Regions from separate parts of the Homo sapiens genome. Here region 1 is linked to region 2. The links come from fine-mapping of genetic effects on gene expression. A gene starts in region 2. The other region holds a variant in brackets. All regions are shown on one strand. Distances are from middle to middle.

What was found. PIP is the estimated chance that this variant, and not a neighbour inherited with it, causes the effect.
Region 1: its variant is the best candidate, but not a certain one, in a credible set for the expression of HBS1L in whole blood (INTERVAL, PIP 0.85).

Annotation. Positions count from the first base shown.
Region 1 is chr6:134,987,910-134,993,162 of GRCh38, forward strand. All of the region lies in intron 8 of HBS1L (HBS1 like translational GTPase), which reads right to left. Among named protein-coding and RNA genes, the nearest start is that of MIR3662, 11 kb to the left of the region's middle. The variant G/GGAGAAAT (reference allele first, on the strand shown) is at 3,188.
Region 2 is chr6:135,051,639-135,056,891 of GRCh38, forward strand. HBS1L (HBS1 like translational GTPase) reads right to left here and starts at 3,184. Exons shown (of 18, transcript NM_006620.4): 1 at 3,011-3,184. The coding sequence starts at 3,053. It overlaps LOC124901405 (a long non-coding RNA gene), which reads left to right and starts at 3,255. Exons shown (of 2, transcript XR_007059775.1): 1 at 3,255-3,848. RefSeq lists an enhancer at 3,343-3,392.

The DNA of each region.
Region 1 (5,253 bases), 64 kb before region 2:
CAAAGCAAATCAAACAAAAGACTCCCAAAGATGGATTAAAATTTTAAAATAAAAGTCACCAAAAATAATGACACAAAGAACAATAAAAAAGTCCACACTTGATTATATAAGAATTAAAATATATAAGCAAAGGAGGAAAAATATAAACAAAATTAAAACATAAACAAACAGCAACCAGGCACAGTGGCTCACGCCTATAATCCCAGCACTTTGGGAGGTCAAGGCAGGCAGATCACCTGAGGTCAGGAGTTCGAGACCAGCCTGGCCAATATGGTGAAACCCCATCTCTGCAAAAAATACAAAAATTAGCCGGGTGTGGTGGTGCACACCTGTATCCCAGCTACTTGGGAGGCTAAGGTATGAGGATCACTAGAACCTGAGAGGCAGAGGTTGCAGTGAGTCGAGATCGCCCCACTACACTCCAGCCTAGGTGACAGAACAAGACTGTCTCAAAAAAACAAAAAACAGTAGACAGGGAGGGACAAACATTTGTAACATATAAAGTAAAGGTTATAATCTCTATAGAATCTTTACCAAAAAAAAAAAACATAAAAAACCCCAAAACAAAGCAAGAAGACATAGCTTTAAAAGATACAAGCAAGCTATTTGCTAAAGAAATATAAATGGTCAACATGAAAAAAATTCAAATTCAGTAGAAACTAAAATTTTTTAAAAGTAAAATAAAAACACATTGACATATTCCCTCTCTCCCATTTTTACAAATCACATTGTTAAAGATTTGAAAGACAAAATTATTTGCTGTAGGCAAGGATACGGTGAGAAGCGCATCCTCAAATATTGCTCATGGGACTGTAGGTGCACCACCTTCCAGGGGGTATTTTCACAAAAAGTATCAAGAACTTAAAAATTACACATATTTTACTTCCCATCAATTCCACCTCTAGGGATTTATCCCAGAGAAATAAGTATAGATCTACAAAGATATTCATCAGAGTACTGTTTATAATGAAGAAAAACAGCAAATATATGAATTATCAAAAAGCAGCATATTCATCCTCTACAGCTATTGAAAAAAAAGCCTTGTATAACAAAGTTTTCTAACCTGTGTGGACCATCTTGTGAATCAGATAGAAAGACATTCCTTTCAGACTCAAATTACACACCCCACAAAAGAAGAAAGCTAACCTCAGCTTAGCTCAGTTTTTGTTAGCCTTATTGAAACTAACTTTACAGGTTCCCACTATTCTTTTGTGTTGATGCCACTTGCGTCATGTGGATGCAGCCTTTTAAAATGTGCAATAGACAGTTTGTGCAACCATAGAAGTTCTTCCTTTTCATTCTTATCAATTATTTCTGTCAATGCACTGTAGGGGCATTTTTTAAAGAACACTTTTATTTTCTCTTTTACAGCTTTTGCTTTGTATGCATACCTGTTTGTCATAGAAATCCACTTTTCTGAAATCCAGGAAACAAAGACTACACCTGGCATTCCCCTTTTTAGCTATCTCGGGCTGTTACATGATAATCACTATCTCTCCAGGGTCCTCTTATATTCCATCCACATCATTAAGTTCTCCTGCTTTCTGGTCAGAACAGAGTCCACAACAGCTTGTTTCTTTGTTGCTTCCCCAATGACCCTTTACTTCTGTGCTCTCCAGTTTTTAAAGAATTTCAGATATAATATATAATCCTCACCATAATGGAAAATAAATGGTCATAAAATATGTCAAGAATGTCTCAGATACTTTCTTACAACAGAACATTACGATTTAAATTGAAGTACTAACCATACACTTTGGTGGGATAATTTACACTATTCCTGTTTCCTTTTACTCGTACCTAAATACTCCTGCTTTGTCTCTACTCTTAAGTGCCATCTTCACTTCCAATCCCTCATATTTTATAAAACTGAACATTAATTTCCTCAATGAGATCCAGCTCTTTTGATCAAGGATTCTTAGATTAGAATAAGCATACAAACTGAAGCAATCAATTTGAATATTGGCTCTTTCATGCATACCTGTAGTCAATAACTGTTCTCCACACCTCAGGCAAGTTGTCTAACCTCTCTGTGTTACCAACTTACTTACTTCACAGAAACCCTAGGGAGTAAATATAGTTTATATAAAACATCCAGACCAGAACTTCCAAGTCCTAGGCTCAGTAATTGAAAATCTTTTTCTCATTAGGTTTTCATAATAACTGTAAAATTATATTTACCTTCTTAGGTTAAAATGTGAAATTCATTGAATTGGTATTAAGATACCTAAGGCCACAAATGTTCTACCTAATCTTCCTATTACTATCTCCAAAAAATTACTGGGAAATTTCTCTATTAATATTATTTCTAGGCAATAGCTCTTGTCTTTGGGAGTCCAAATGCCTACTACGCATTCTCAAGGAAGCCTCTGATGATCAAGCAGAATAAAGTGATCTCTCTCCACAATGTATATCTTCTCTGTTCTTGCAGCGCAACTGTTAGTCTTTCCACTTCACATCTTGTCTTCTATACTGTGATTTCCCTGAGGTGAGGCAGCATGCCTTGTATGCTTCCTTGTGTCCCCAAAGCCCACTGCAATATTTTGCACACTCGGCAAGTTACTTAACATCTTTGAGTCTCTTTATCTCTTTGTTACATAATGGAATTCAATTAGATGATCTCTAAAATCCTTTCCCACCATAATTCCATAAAGAGTTTGAAATAAATGATTTTTGTTTTTTGAGGCAGGGTCTCACTCCCTTCCCTCACGGCTCACTGCAGCCTCAACTTCCTGAGCTCAGGTGATTCTCCCACTTCAGTTTCCTGAGTAAGTGAGGCTACAGGCACCTGCCACCACACTCAGCTAATTTTTTGTATTGTTAGTAGAGACAGGGTTTTGCCATGTTGCCCAGGCTGGTCTTGAACTCCTGGGTTGAAGCAATCTGCCCACCTCAGCCTCCCAAAGTGCTGGGATTACAGGCGTGAGCCTCCACACCTGGCCTGGAATAAACGATCTTTATAATAACTGTGGACTCTAAGGTCCTAGAATTCAGAAGTATTTTTTACTACAACTGCTTCTGGTGTTTGTCTCGCCCATTAAACTATCAGTGCTTTGTAGGCATTGCATTCCCACACTGCTACCCCAGTGCTTGCTACACAGCCAGTATTCAATAAGTAATCAATGAAAAAAAAAAAGAAAAAGACTCACAGACATACACACACACACACACACATATACACATATAA[G/GGAGAAAT]GAGAAATCAAAACTATATTGTATTCTTTGGTAAATGCAATGAGAAGTACAGTTTCCCTAAGTATCAGTGAGGGATTGGTTCCAGACCTCCCAACACCCATGGATACCAAAATCTATGAATGCTTAAGTCCCTTATACAAAACAGGGTAGCCTTTGCATATAGCCTACACACTTCCTCTTACACACTTTAAATTATCTCTAGATTATGTGTAATACCTAATACAATGCCTACACATCACTTCCTTTGCATGGATTCAACACAGTACTCAGTGTGTGGCAAATTCAAATTTTGCTTTTTGGAACTTTGTGGAATTTGTCCCCCCCAAATATTCCAATCCACAGTTGACTGAATCCGTAAATGCAAAATCCATGCACATGGAGGAATGACTGTATACTAATTTAAAATGGTGATAATATACACTTCCTAGAGTTGTTATAAAGATTATATTAAACTGAATGCATGTAATACCTAATACAGTATCTGGTCCACATTAGGTACTCAATTAATAGGGATAATTACTTTATTTCAATCTTTTATCACATTCAGTCCATGAATCTTGAATTAATATTCTAAAATTACATGTCAACTTTCTAAAATAGTATCAAAAAATTCTTATCTTCAAATATATTATAATGTATTCATACAATATCCTTTTTGGTTAACAAATGTTCATGTTAAAATTCTCTTTTTGGCTGGGCACAGTGGCTCATGCCTGTAATCCCAACACTTTGGGAGGCTGAGGTGGGGATTGCTTGAGCCCAGGATTTCAAGACCAGCATGGGCAATACAGTGAGATCCCATCTTTACAAAAAACTAAAAAATTAGCCAGGCATGGTGGCACATGCCTGCAGTCCCAGCTACTCAGGAGGCTGGGGTGAGAGGATCCCTTGAGCCCGGGAAGTTGTGGATGCAGTGACTGGTGACTGTGCCACTGCACTCCAGCCTGGGCTACAGAGTGAGACTCTGTCTCAAAAAATTAATATTTTAATGAGTAGATCCCAGAAAACGGGTAATTGCTTGAAGTCATGTTTTTGCCATGTAACAGAGTCAAGTTATTTTAACTCTTCATGTTTTCCAGTAATCATCCATTATGAAAGAAATCAATGTCCTATATATGCAGTGCTATTTTCATTGCTTTAATAATTTAAAGTTACGGTGATGCACAGCATAATGACGTTTTGGTCAACCATGGACCGCATACGTGATGGTGGTCCCATAAGATTATAATGGAGCTGAAAAACTCCCATTGCCTGGTGATGTCATAGTCGCCATAATGTCATAGCACCATGCATTACTCATGTATCTGTGATGATACTGGTATAAACAAATCTACTGCGCTGCCAATTGTATAAAAGAATATAGCATATGCAATTATGTATAGTACTTTATAATGATAATTATGATAGTGGTTTATGTACTTACTATTTTTCACTTCTGATGATCCTGATCCTGTGTAGGCCTAGGCTAATGTGCGTATTTGTGTCTTTGTTTTTCACCAAAAAAAGTTTAAAGTAAAAAATACATATTAAAAAAAGCTTATGGAATAAGACTATACAGAAAGAAAATATTTTCGTACAGCTGTACAACGTTTGTGCTTTAAGCTAAGTGTTATTATAAGAGAGTCAGAAAGTTAAAAAAAATTTAAATGTTTATAAAGTAAAAAAAGCTACAGTAAGCTAAGCTTAATTTACTATTAAAGAAAAACATATTTTTAAATAAATGTAGTGTCCCCTGAGTGTACAGTGTTTGTAAAGTATACAGTCGTGTCCTAGGCCTTCACATTCACTCACTGAATCACCCAGAGCAACTTCCAGTCCTGCGAGCTCCATTCATGGTAAGTGCCCTATACAGGTGTACCATTTTTTATCTTTTATGCCCTATTTTTACTGTACCTTTTCTATGATATGCTTAGATCAGTTTAGATACACAAATATTTACCACTGTGCCACAACTGCTTACAGTATTCAATACAGTAATATGTTATACATGTTTGTTGCCTTGGAACTATAGGTTCCATGTAGCCTAGGTGTATAAAAGATGTTACCATCCAGATTTGTGTAAGTAA
Region 2 (5,253 bases):
TACAGAGCGCTACGCCTGTTCACTACATGAGACTATCAGCTTCTTCAGGGCAAGACTTGGTTTAGCCAACTACCTGGCACATATGGGGCACTAGATTAATATTTGTTTTATTATAAATTAATGAATCAAACTAATTACAACTAAAAACCCACAAAGAACATAAATATATTTACATAAATTTCATTTGACAAACACTAACACCATGCCAGGGAGTAGTTGAGACAACTGTGGTATAACAGTGAACACATTTCCAGTTATCACTGCACCTAAAATCTGACAAGGAATACACACAAGATAATGGGCAATTACAAAACCATGTGACAAGTGCCTGATGTGAGAAACACAGAGCAATTTGGGAACACACACATGAATGACAAAACTAGAACCGGGAGTGGGGCAGCTAGGGAAAGATCCCCATTAATATAATATCCAAACCAATTCCAAAGGATAGAGTTAGCTAGTTTCTGAGGGTATTCATGCAGCAGGAACAGCATGCTCAAAGGCTGAGACCAAATGCTTACAGCAAAGAAAAATTAGATAAATGCTACTATTGGGCAAAAACATATATGATTAAATAAATTATTAGATCACAATCCCAAGTTAATAAAAATTTATTTGCAAATAAACAAGGGGCCATTCACAAACAAAGTATTTTTAGATATTGAAGACAACAATAGGCCAGGCATCGTGGCTCACACCTGTAATTCCAGTACTTTGGGAAGCCGAGGAGGGAGGATCTCGCTTGGGCAACACAGCCGGATGCTGTCTCTACTAAAATAAAAAATTAACCGGGCATGGGGGCACATGCCTGTAGACCTAGCTACTCGGGAGGCTGAGGCACGAGGATTGCTTGAGCCCAGGAGTTGGAGGTTACAGAGAGCTATGATCATGCCACTGCACTCGCACTCCAGCTTGGCCAACCAACAAAGTGCGATCCTGTCTCTTAAAAAAAAAAAAAAAAGAAAAAAAACTCTTTTTTACTAGGTCAGTTTGTCAATGCTGAAGTTGACCCTAAAGTGCCACAACATATAAAGATGAAGAGAATTCTTTCCTGCAATCTTCATAGTTTGTTTCCTCAATCAACAAAATTATGAAATATTTACCACATGTAAAGAACATTGTGCCAGCTACTTAAAGTATGGATTTTGCCTTCCTGAGACTTTTAAATCAGTGACTGAGGCAGTCATGTAAAGTATTACATAAATTACAGAGAAAAACAAAGTGGGAGTTAAGTAGCGGAACCAGTAGGTTTTAGAACACAAACTCTCTCTAATGAGGTTATATTTCTTAACAGAATTTTTAAATTATTATTCTGAGAATTCAAGAGAAAGCCTAACTGGGAAGAAGAGAAATAAACTGGACCTTAATGAGTACAACTTTTATAAACAAGAAAAGGGGATGAACCTCCTTAATGTTACAGGAACAGCTTGGTTATGATGTCACCAATTGTTTCAAAGAAGCATGACAACATGACAACCTAACCTCAAGAAGCCAAGGTGCTCCCTGAGGCCAACCACCTCTCCTCCATGAAGCATTCCTTAACGTAGAAATCCTGCTTAAATTCCCCCCAATCCATTCTGAATTAAGTGTTCTCATCTGTGTATCCCTCCCATAGCGTTTTCTCAGTACCTTTTGTAGCATTTTTCATACTCTAATAATCTGTAACTCGTATAATCTTCTCCTTTTAGACCACCCTCAAATATCTTACTTTCAGTCCTCAAAGCTTAGAACAGTACTCTAAGCACTAACTTAATGGTGGTTGAGGAAATGATAAACAACTATTAAAGAAATGAATGAATAATAAATAGGCCTATTCATGTACTTTATATTTGCAAAAATCTCTCTCAATCTAAAGTCATTTCTTAGGTGACAATGGTCCACATGCAATACCATCCACTGCAATATTTATTTAAAAGGGCCTCCATTCTAAAGTAACCACCAGAAAATTCACATGTTCTAGACGGACTGAGGTCACAGGTTCCAAATGGAGAACAGGGTGTTAGCTGCCCTCACTCTAGTTAAAGCATACTGATGTTCTATAATAATCTACTGGGGTGCCAATGACAATCACCAACATATTAAGCACTACATGTTCTGCACTTCGTAAAGCATAGTTCTTTATTCTTCTCCTGCATTAGTTCATTTTTGTTTATATTTTTAGTTTATGTGATGCTTGGTGATGCCTATAGTTATCTACTGCATGAAGAGGGATGTGCTCCTCCTAAAAATAATTCTAACTCCTGTTAACTCCTACAGAACATTCATACAGACATTTTTATTTCATTTTTTAATATCAAAAAGTCCTTTCCTATACACTCTTTCCTCTAGTACTGCCGTTTATTTACATTTCAAAATACATTTATATCAAGCATTACCAGCCAAGAACTAAGTATAAACTTCAAGATCCATCTGATCGACTCATTCTTTGGGCCTTTTTAACATGTGTCTTTTCTACCGTCTCCTAAGTTTCCACTTTGAAATTCGTTGAAAAATAAATTAGCGCAAACTGATTCTGCACTAGGTATGTATGGACATACACAAAAGGTTTACCATGTAAATCTAACACAGGTACACGTCCGTTGAATGTATTAAGTCAATCTGTGTTTTACAAATAAGCAACGTTTCATGGACATTTCTCAAAGGGGATCTGGGAGAGAGGAGCTAGAAGCAGGCACGTTAGTGCCCAACATGGGAGGAAACAATGGAAGAGGTGATAATGCTTACGTGCCTAAATATCACCGGATCTCAACCTCACCAATATCCTACCCATATGACGCTATGCAGCACCTCCCCCTCCCCAAATAAAATCAACCCCAGAGGGCAGAAATCATGACTTAAAAACGACGGCATTTGAAAGCACTAGAAGGCCTGTTATATTCCCCAACTGGGGCTCTCCCAATCCCGACAGGGCAACACTGACGAGAAACTCACAGATTGAAGTGGATGCCAACGGGCTAGGATCCCAGCTGTAGCCGGGAAAAGAACGTCCCGGCATGACCCTGCCACCTACCTTCATCGTAGTTATAGCCTCGAACATTCCGATGCCGGGCCATGACGGCGGAGAGGGCGTTTGCCACAGCCCCTTAACTCCTTCCAAAACACTCCGCTTAGATACTGATAAGGCGCCAACTGCAGCCTGGAGAACCCCTATGCGCCATCTTGGCTTCCCGCAGGCCTCTGCGCCGAGCGCCTGCGCAAGCGCGACGTCTTAGCTGTGCACCGCGCGACGGCAATGCCTCAGGGTCACTGTCCGCCTCCCTGAGGGCGCATGCGCACTGCTGTGCATGGCGGGACGAGGGGAGGGAGCGTTTGGGAGTGGCCCCACCCAAAGGTTGGGCGACGGAGGGGGATGGGGAAATCCGCCGCCTAGAATTGACTGGTTTGGACTAAATGTTGCAAGCGGGGAACCTTGAGCTACCTACGCCAGCGTTCTGGATTATTTTCCAAATTTGGTTCCTGATAATCTGAGAAAGCTATGCGCTCAGTAAGAGCAGGGACCTTGTTTTATCAAACTTTGATCTTTCATTAAGCACACAGTGGGCATTCAACAAACTTGTGTAAACTTGGAATCAGATTTAGCCCAGGCCGGTGCGGTGGCTCCTTCCTGTAATCCCAGCACTTTGGGAAGCCTAGGAGGGCGGATCGCTTGAACTCAGGTGTTCGAGACCAGCCTGAGCAACATAGCGAGGCTCCGTCTCTACAAAAAATACAAACACTAGCCGGCCCTGTGGTGCAGACCTGTAGTCCCAGCTACTGAAGAGGCTGAGGTGGGAGGATCCCCTGAGCCCAGGCGGTCGAGGCTGCAGTGAGCTGAGATCGGGCCTCTCCATTCCAGCCCGGGCGACAAAGTGAGTGAGACCTTATCTCAAAAAAAAAAAGAGTCCAAGCTTTAGAGAAGGAAATAAGGCTATTTTTAAACGGGTATATATTATTAAATTGAGACCCTGGCTATATTAGGTCACCCTGCATTCATATAATTTACGACTTCATGTATTCACTCCGTTCGGCATTACTATCCCTAGTAAACAGCGATTTGCCCTTAGCTATGTAAACGATTTTAGCTATATAGACGATATTTATCAGCATCATAAAGAAGGATTCACTGAACATTCATTGAAGACATAATTGTGTGTAACATTGCGAGTATTAAATATAGCTTTTTAGACATAGCACTGGCCTTAGGTGGTAATGCTGAATGTTGTTGATGCATGAATCTATAACCTGCTATTAAATGTCCTCATTTCTCAGAACATAAAGTTAATAATGCTATATAAGAAACCAACCTCATTATACTGAACACCACTTCAGTTTTAGCTTGTGTTTTTGAAATGATGATACTTCACATCAAAGGCAAATGTTGAGTTCTAGAGATAATTAAAAGCTTCCTCAGCTTTTTGCTATGCACAATAGAAAGAAATAAGAGTAATCCAAATTTAGTTTATATTTGTAAGTGGCTTGGAACGTAATTTATTCATGCATTTGAATGTGTTTGACTACAAAAATAGTTGTTTAATGTGGCTCCAAAATAAAAGTTTACAGAAAAATAGAGATAGTTGCTAATGTTACATGGCTTAAGTGTTTTTATTATTTTACACCCTTAGGTAATTTTTATTTTGCAGCCTGTTTCTTTGTAAAAAGGAGATAGAGACACTAACTCGCGAGCTGTGAATAATGTATCCGTATAAGAGGATTTATCACAGATCATAGTAGGTGCTTAAAAATATTGTGTTATTGGCCGGGCGCGGTGGCTGACTCCTGTGATCCCAACACTTTGGGAGGCTGAAGCAGGCGGATCATGAGGTCAAGAGATCAAGACCATTCTGGCCAACATGGTGAAACTCCCTGTCTACTAAAAATACAAAAATTAGCTAGGCATGGTGGCGCGTGCCTATAGTCCTAGCTACTCGGGAGGCTGAGGCAGGAGAATCGCTTGAACCCGGGAGGCAGAGGTTGCAGTGAGCTAAGATTGTGCCACTGCACTCCAGCCTGGAGACAGAGTGAGACTCTGCACCCCCCCAAAAAAATTGTGTTATTAAAATACAAATGGCAGCTTCCACTCCACTGTAATTGTCAATTACAAGCTTAACTACAACTCACTGAGGTATGAAGTGAATGAGTTATAGACCACATAAGCAAAGTACTACAGGAACAATGAATAAGAAAACGTTACTTCTGTCAGATAATATATAATTTGCCCTTAGGTCGTCAATAACGCACTCCTTTAAAACTCTAAATATTGCACAGCATCTACTG